2 linked regions of the Homo sapiens genome follow. The protein of the gene in region 1 interacts with the protein of each later gene in a pairwise test. Each region holds a gene or a part of one and is shown on either strand. Other genes may lie near its edges. The genes, in order: MKKS and BBS12.

Region 1 (3,921 bases):
TCCAGATGCTCAGGTCCCTGATTTAAAAATTGTGTAGTAGGCCAGACGCCGTGGGTCATGCCTGTAATCCCAGCACTTTGGGATGCCGAGGCGGGTGGATCACCTGAGGTCAGGAGTTCAAGACCAGCCTGGCCAACATGGCGAAACACCATCTCTACTAAAAAATACAAAAATTAGCCAGGTGCAGTGGCGGGTGCCTGTAATCCCAAACTTCTCCGGAGGCTAAGGCAGGGAGAATTGCTTGAACCCGGGAGGCGGAGGTTGCACAGTGAGCAGAGATCCAGCTTCAGCCTGCGCGACAGAGCGAGACTCTTTGTCAAAAAAAAAAAAAAAAAAAAAAAAAATCGTGTAGTTTTGTACACAACTTGCCACCTCCTTCCATGTACCTTAAATAATCTCTAGGCTACTTATAATACCTAATACAACGTTAAATGCTATGTAAGTAGTTGTTACACTGCAGTGTTTAGGGAATGACAAGAAAAAAGGTCTGCACGTGTTCAGTACAGATGTAACCATCTTTTTTCCCCCAGAATGTTTTTATTTATTTATTTTCTTAAATAGAGTCTCTGTCGCCCAACCTGGAGTGCAGTGGCGTGATCTCCGCTCACCGCAACCTCCGCCTCCAGGGCTCAAGCGATTCTCCTGCCTCAACCTCCCAAGTAGCTGGGATTACAGGCGTGCGCCACTGCGCCCGGCTCATTTTTTTGTACTTTTAGCAGAGACCGGGTTTCGCCACGTTGGCCTGGCTGGCCCCAAACTCCTGACTCAAGTGATCCGCCCGCCTCGGGCTCCTAAAGTGCGGGGTTACAGGGGTGAGCCACCAAACCCCGCCGCCCCAAAATATTTTCTATCCGCAGTTGGTTGAATTCACACATGCGGAACTCATGGATAGGGAGCGTATTGTTTCTCCCCCATCACTAGAACATGGAGTCAGGACCGTGCAAGTCCCTCTTGGTCACTGCCGTATCTACTAACTCGGCAGTGCTGTAGACACGTGTATATCTGTTTATGGATAAACTGAAGATGTTAATGAATGAATGAAACCGTCATATTGAGTCTCTGAAACGGCAACAGGATTTGGGTATGGTCTTATCGGGGAGGAAGACGAGCATGACCTTAGAGGGTCATCCCTACAAGGTCCACAGCCCTGCAAGCCCCGCGGCTGCTTTCACGTAGCTGGCAGGGCCACGCTGCACAACGTCTCTAACGCCGTCGGAGGGCGGCCCCCACCTCCCGACAGCCTGGGGTACACCGTGCACCCTCCAGACAGTCAGGGGCACACGGGGCCCCTCCCAGCGAGGGAGGGGACGGGGAGTCACAGGTTCGGCGTAGAAGGCGGCAGCGCAGGTGGGAGCGTGGTGAGGCGCCACTCCTCCAGCTCTCCCCACCGGCGGGAAGACCTCCTCGCCGCCCGCATCCGTGCCGACCGCAACATTTACCATCGGCAGCTATTTCAGAGGTCGGTCTTTCGCCTCCTACAGAGAGCCAGCCTCCTCCTTGTCCCCGCCCTCAAATATCCTTCAGTGAGGACACCGGTGACCTTTGGGGGTGGAGAGGGAGGCGCCTACAAGCCCCTTCCCCTCTCTTCGGCCGGACACAAAGCGGGCTTTTCCACCTAGAGTCCCAGCGCTCTCACCTGCGCACCAGCCGTCGCGCCGCCCCAGGCCGCCACCGCCAGAGGCCCCAGAAACAGATCTCAAGCAGCCGCTGCTGCCGCGGATCCCGACAACCTTCGCGTCGCGCGAGGGCACGGAGCACGCGCAGCTCTGCGGTCGACGCCGGGCCGCCCCCACTCCGCTTCTCCGGGTTTTCCGTGAAGCTCCAGCCAACAGCGGCCGTCACCGGAAAAAACGGGGAGCGAAGTTTATTCAGCGTATATTCCAGCAAATTGTTGAAACTGAAATTTTAAAAGAACGCATAAAATTTAAATAACATATCAAAATGGCACAGCTTCTGCCTTTTGGTGAGCGCTTGACAATGATTTATTGAATGAAAGAAAGAAATAGTCCACTGCGCTCTGCTCTCTGTCCTGACATGACCAATTACAAAGCGCTTGGATTTGTCGCTCAGCGCCAGTATCCCGCCTCTCTGTGCGGTTGTCTGGAAAATCAGGATTTTTACTCTCCCGTAACTCCCGGGATCGGGTTTGGAAAACGGACATGCGCCGTGAGAGCTAGTTGCCTTCTACTAAAGCATCCGCCCTCAGTCCTTCCTGAGGGCTTACAGGGAAGTGCGGAGTTTCGCAGCTCGTACTCTTCACAGATTAGATAATTCACCCGGCATTTCCCCATCCTGCTTCTGGGTTCCAGGACAAAACTTTTATTCTCTTTTAACATTAAAAAACATATAGGAAGTTATGTTCAAACATGGCTATTTTTATTAAAATTTATCCGGCACTGTGAAAGCTACCTTTCCTTTCTCACAATCTTTCGCACCGAATATATGTTCCATTCTTGAGCTAGTCATTTTCCAATGTTAAGAAAACACACCACAGAAAAGCGTTTTTTTTTCTCTCGGTCAGTTCAACTGCCTAGCACCGTGAGTTACCATGATACGTTATTTGCTAATGAGAGTCATTGGGGTCCCAGCCTTTAAAAATAGCCTGCGTCCGGCGCCATTTTTGTTTTGGGCCCACTTTGAAAGCCGCGATATTCTGAACAGAGGCCATTTTTCTTTTGGGCAGATTCCACGGGCCATCGAAGTGTTTCGCTGCCATCTTAAATCCTGGCTGTGGCCTCAATCCTGCAGCGAAGCTGCCCAGATCATTTTGTGTTTGGGCGGCGGCTGAGTTCCCAAACGCGCGCGGAGACCCTGGGAAGGAGGAAGTAAGCGCGAAAGTGCTTCCCTTAAGCTTCTGAAGGTTGGCTGCAGTTCCGGCTACCTGTGTAGTCCGAGTTTCCACAGCCAGGTACTACTCCGCCAGTGACCCTGGACAGTAACAAAACATATAAAGCCCGAGCCCAAACCCCGCCACCATCATAGGTAAGCACATGGACCTCTGACAACCTCAGATGTTCCTTCAAGTGAACTGAACTGTTTGCCCATCTCCTCCCTCCTGGTTTTTGGCTTTGATTTTTTGAGACTTTTCCGAATCCTTCTCCCTGTACTTCCACCTTTCTTCATTGTTTTCAAAAAGCCAAAAAGTTGCTAAACATCAGGATGCCATGAGCATGGGCATTACGGTGGAGATATTATTCAGGAAAGTTAACTGTCTTTGCACAAAGGGAATGCAGTAGATGGGCCAGGTATTTGTATCAAATCATGGCTACCTGCATCCAGCAGTACAAATACCTCCCCCTTCCCAGACATTTTTGGAGATGTGAGGTAAATACAGATTGCGTTTGTATATACTTCCCATTCATTCATTTATTCATTGCATTTCTTGAGTACCTAATTTGTGCTAGGCCATAAGGATTCAGGAGTTAGCTAAAAAAAATCCATTAACTCATGGAGCCTACATTTTATCACCTTGACATCTACTAGGTTGAGACAAATAACAGTATTTTATGGTTCTTAGCACTGCTAGACTGTATAAACAAGTATTTGCTTTCTCCTTCCCCTGAACTATTTTTTTTTATTTTTAGTTTTTAATTTTTTTGGCCGGGTGTAGGAATTAATGGTATTGACACTTACTTCTTGGATCCTAGACATAACGATATTTGTAAGCCAGTTGGCTAGCGTTAAAACTAATATTCCAGTTACTTAGGGCCTTGTTGCTCCAAGTTCATTTCACCTACCACCAGCATCAGCATCCCTGGGAGCTTGTTAGAATTACACTTCATGACTCTCACCCCAGAGCTGCTGAATCAGAATCTTCCTCAAGAAGTGTACCTTAAAGTTCAAGGAACATTGATTCAGGGCATGGGCTAAAGATACAGCCCTTTCTTTCTTTCTTTTTTTTTTTAGATGGAGTCTCGCTCT
Region 2 (3,921 bases), on another chromosome or scaffold:
TCTGTTTTCTCTTGCTTCAGTTTTGTACTTAAATTTGGGGGAACAAATATGGTGAAAAAAATTCATTCACTTACCAAATATTTATAGAGTACTTGCTGTGTGTCAGGCAATATTGTAGGTACTCGGGATATACATCATTGACTAAAATTGCCTTCCTGGAAATTACATTCTAAGAGAGAGATGTAGTCTATAAAAAATAAATAAGTAAACTATATCCTATTTTATAAGGGAATAAGTGTTATGGGAAAAAGAAAGTATAACAGATGGAACAAATCCAGAGTACAGAGGGAAAAGAGGATTTGTGGTATTCTATAGAGTGCTCAGGGTAGGCCTCATTGAAAAGCAGAAAATTTGAGAAAATATTTGAAGGTGATGCAGCAATAGATTTCTTAGGGAAGAGCATTCCAGAAAGAGGGAACAACTAGAACAGAAACATTAAGATAGGGAACATGCAAAGCATTACAAAAAGAGGCCAGAACAAAGTGGCCAAGGGATAAAATAGTAAGTGATAAAGTCAGAAGGGTAAAGAAAGGACTGCAAATAGTTAGGGCATTGTAAGGACTTTGACTTCGACTCCAAGTGAAATGGGTAGGCCTTGCAAGATTTTGAGCCTAGGAGTGAAAGGATATGAGTTCATTTTTAAAAGGGACTCCTGTGTCAAAGGCATAAAGCTTTATTTTCTGAGTTAGAGGTTTTTAAACAGTAGAGTGACATGATTAGACTTCTGTATTGGGAATAGACTGGAGATGAGCAAACAGTTGATTTAGATAATAAAAGGCTAATCATGCCCATCAAGAAAATATTATAATTTTTCAAAATGCAGCTCCTGAAAGCATTGCATGTCTTATTACTCTAAACTGAGTACCTTAGACAAAACTGGACATAATCTTTTGAAAAAAAAAACTTATTCTGATGTCAAAATTCCAGTTAAGTTGTCTGACTCTGCTCTTCCATTACACACTTAGAAACTCAAAGAAACATTAAGCTGGCAAGTACTGAAAACAGAGAACTGTTTGTGGAAAACATTGGTGCATAACAGGACATGCATAGCAGGACAAGAATCAGATTGTGTCTGTGTAATGCCAAGAAGAGTTGCCAGAAGTACTTATCATCTTTGAAATTATCCACTTTGTTATCCCCTTTGCTGTTTTTGCCTTTTTATACCCCATCTCTTAGAGGATGGGGCATTTTTGTTTTGAGTTTTTATATTATGTTAATTATAGCCGACTGTAACCTGTTCAAAATAATAATTTAGGAGCTCTTCTAGAGTTGGGAATGCTGAGAATTTTTAAAAATTACTAAAACTTGGAATAGCTTTTTCAAATGCCAAAGCAGATTTGTCTTGAATATTGATTTTGATATCAGTTTTATGTGACTTTTTGCTTATACATTAGTTTTCTTTAAATAATTTCATGCCTTTTGTATCTAGGAAACTTTTTCACATAAATTAAATACAGATTAAATTTGAAATAGCCCATGACTGTTTCCATTCGCTCTAAGTTCTCTCTGACTTTTCTACTCGTAGTAATATCTTGTGATTTAAGCATAGTATAGAAAGGAGATCATAAGCAGAGACCCTGATACATGTACAAGTTAAGAGTATGAATAAGGTTTGGAAGAAGGCAGAAAGGTTTGGAAAAGGGAAACACAGTAAAAGATTCTAAAGAAGAGAGGGTGAATTACTATCATACTGGGCAAGGGGCACCTAAAAGGCAGAATTATATAGTAGTTAATAGCATAGGCTTTAACATTAGACAAACCTGGGTTTTAGTCCATAGCCTTTTACAAATTAGCTGTGAAATTTTGTATATGTTATGTAACTATTCTGCTTCATTTTCCACATCACTAAAATAGATTATAGTACCTCCCTCATGTTGTTGTGAATGAATACTACATTACATAATACTTGTAAAATGCCTCATACTTAGTAAGCTTTCATAACATGTTCGAAATGAAAAACAAAACCCAAAAGTCAATCTTTTCAAGCTTGTCCTTTCAACAAATTATTCTGGAGCAACTGGATATCCATGAGGAAAGAGGAACCCCTACCTCACACCATTTACAAAAGTTAATTTAAGATGACTTATGGACATAAATATAAAAGCTAAAACAAACGGAAGAACAAATTTGGCATCTCATACTTCCTGATTTCCAAACTTACTACAAAGCTATAGTACTTAAAACCTGTGGTACTGGCATAAGGATGAATGTATAGATCAGTGGAATTGAATTGAGAGTCCAGAAATCCATAGACATCTATGGCTAATTGATTTTTGACAAAGATGCTAAGGCCACTCCATGGGGAAAAGAATTGTCTCTTCAGCAAATGGTACTGGGACAATTGGATATCCACATGCAAAAGAATAAAGTTGGACTCCTACCTTACACTTTATATGTAAATTAACTCAAAATGGGTCAACAAACTAAATATAAGAGATGAAACTATAAAACTCTTTGAATAAAACATTGGGCTAAATCTTCATACCTTGGATTTGGCAATGGATTTTTAGATATGGCACAAATAATATGAGCAAACAAAAAAATAGGTAAATTAGATTTCATCAAACAACAACAAAAAAATAGGTAAATTAGATTTCTAATTTCTTTTTCTTTTTTTTTGAGACAGAGTCTCGCTCTGTTGCCCAGGTTGGAGTGTGCAATCTCGGCTCACTGCAGGCTCCACCTCCCGGGTTCACGCTGTTCTCCTGCCTCAGCCTCCTGAGTGGCTGGGACTACAGGTGCCTGTCACCATGCCCGGCTAATTTTTTTGTATTTTAACAGAGACGGGTTTCACTGTGTTAGCCAGGAATGGTCTCGATCTCCTGACCTCATGATCTGCCCACCTTGGCCTCCCAAAGTGCTGGGATTACAGGCGTGAGCCACTGTGCCTGGCCTAGATTTCTAATTTCTAACTAAAAACATTTGGTCATCAAAATGCATAATCCAAAAAGTGGAAACTGACTTACAGAATGAGAGAAAATGTTTGCAAATCATAGTTTGATAAGGATCTAGTGTCCAGAATGTATAAGGAACTCTTACAACTTACCAAAAAAAGACTAACTGCTCTATTTTTAAATGGTCAAAAGACTTGAATAGACATTTCTCCAAAAAAGATACACAAATGGCCAATGCACATGAAAAGATGCTCAATATGAGGAAAATGCAAGTCAAAAACACAATGAAATACCACTTCACATTCACTAGGATATCTATAATATTACAAAATATTACAAAAGCAAAAATGGAAAGTGTTCAGTATACTGGACTGAATATTTCCCCCCAGTTCATGTCCTTCTAGCATCTCAAAATGTGATCTTATTTGAAAATAGTTTCTTTGTAGATGTAATTAGCTAAAGTGAGGTCATACTGGATTAAGGTGGGCCCTAAATCCAATGACTGGTATCACTGGATTATAAGAAGGCTGTTTGAAACAGAGGCAGAGGTTAGAGTTATGCAGTCAGAAGCCAAGGACCACTAGGAGCAACTAGAAGCTGGAGGAAGCAAGGAAGGATTCTTCCCTTGATCCTTCAGAAGGAGCATGGACCTGCCAGCATTTTGATTTTGGGCTTCTAGACTCCAGAACTGTGAAAGAATAAATAAGTATTGTTTTAAGCTACCCAGTTGTTTGTGGTAATTTGGTATGGCAGCCCTAGGAAGCTGATGCAGTGAGGATGTGGAGAAATCAAAACCCTCATACATTGTTGGTGGGAATGTTCAGCTGTTATGGAAAACAGACAGTTCATTCAAAAGTTAAAGATATTTGCTCCTCCTTTTCATGCCTGTGGCTGGATGTCCCACAGCACTATAGGAAATGTGAGTCAGGCCTTTTGCATTAAGCAACCAAGAACTACAGACTCCACCTTTTCACCCAAATCATGAATGACCAGTGAAAAGCAACTTATTTCAGAGGAAGAAGCAGCC

What was found.
Region 2: the proteins of MKKS (region 1) and BBS12 interact in binary tests that used the Homo sapiens proteins (3 or more experiments, as listed by UniProt).

Annotation. Positions count from the first base shown.
Region 1 is NC_000020.11:10,432,472-10,436,392, forward strand, and holds the start of MKKS (molecular chaperone MKKS), read right to left. Parts: upstream 1,752-3,921; 5' UTR 1,637-1,751; intron 1-1,636. UniProt on the Homo sapiens protein: Probable molecular chaperone that assists the folding of proteins upon ATP hydrolysis. Plays a role in the assembly of BBSome, a complex involved in ciliogenesis regulating transports vesicles to the cilia.
Region 2 is NC_000004.12:122,735,616-122,739,536, forward strand, and holds part of BBS12 (chaperonin-containing T-complex member BBS12), read left to right. Parts: intron 1-3,757; exon of another isoform or gene 3,758-3,921. UniProt on the Homo sapiens protein: Component of the chaperonin-containing T-complex (TRiC), a molecular chaperone complex that assists the folding of proteins upon ATP hydrolysis.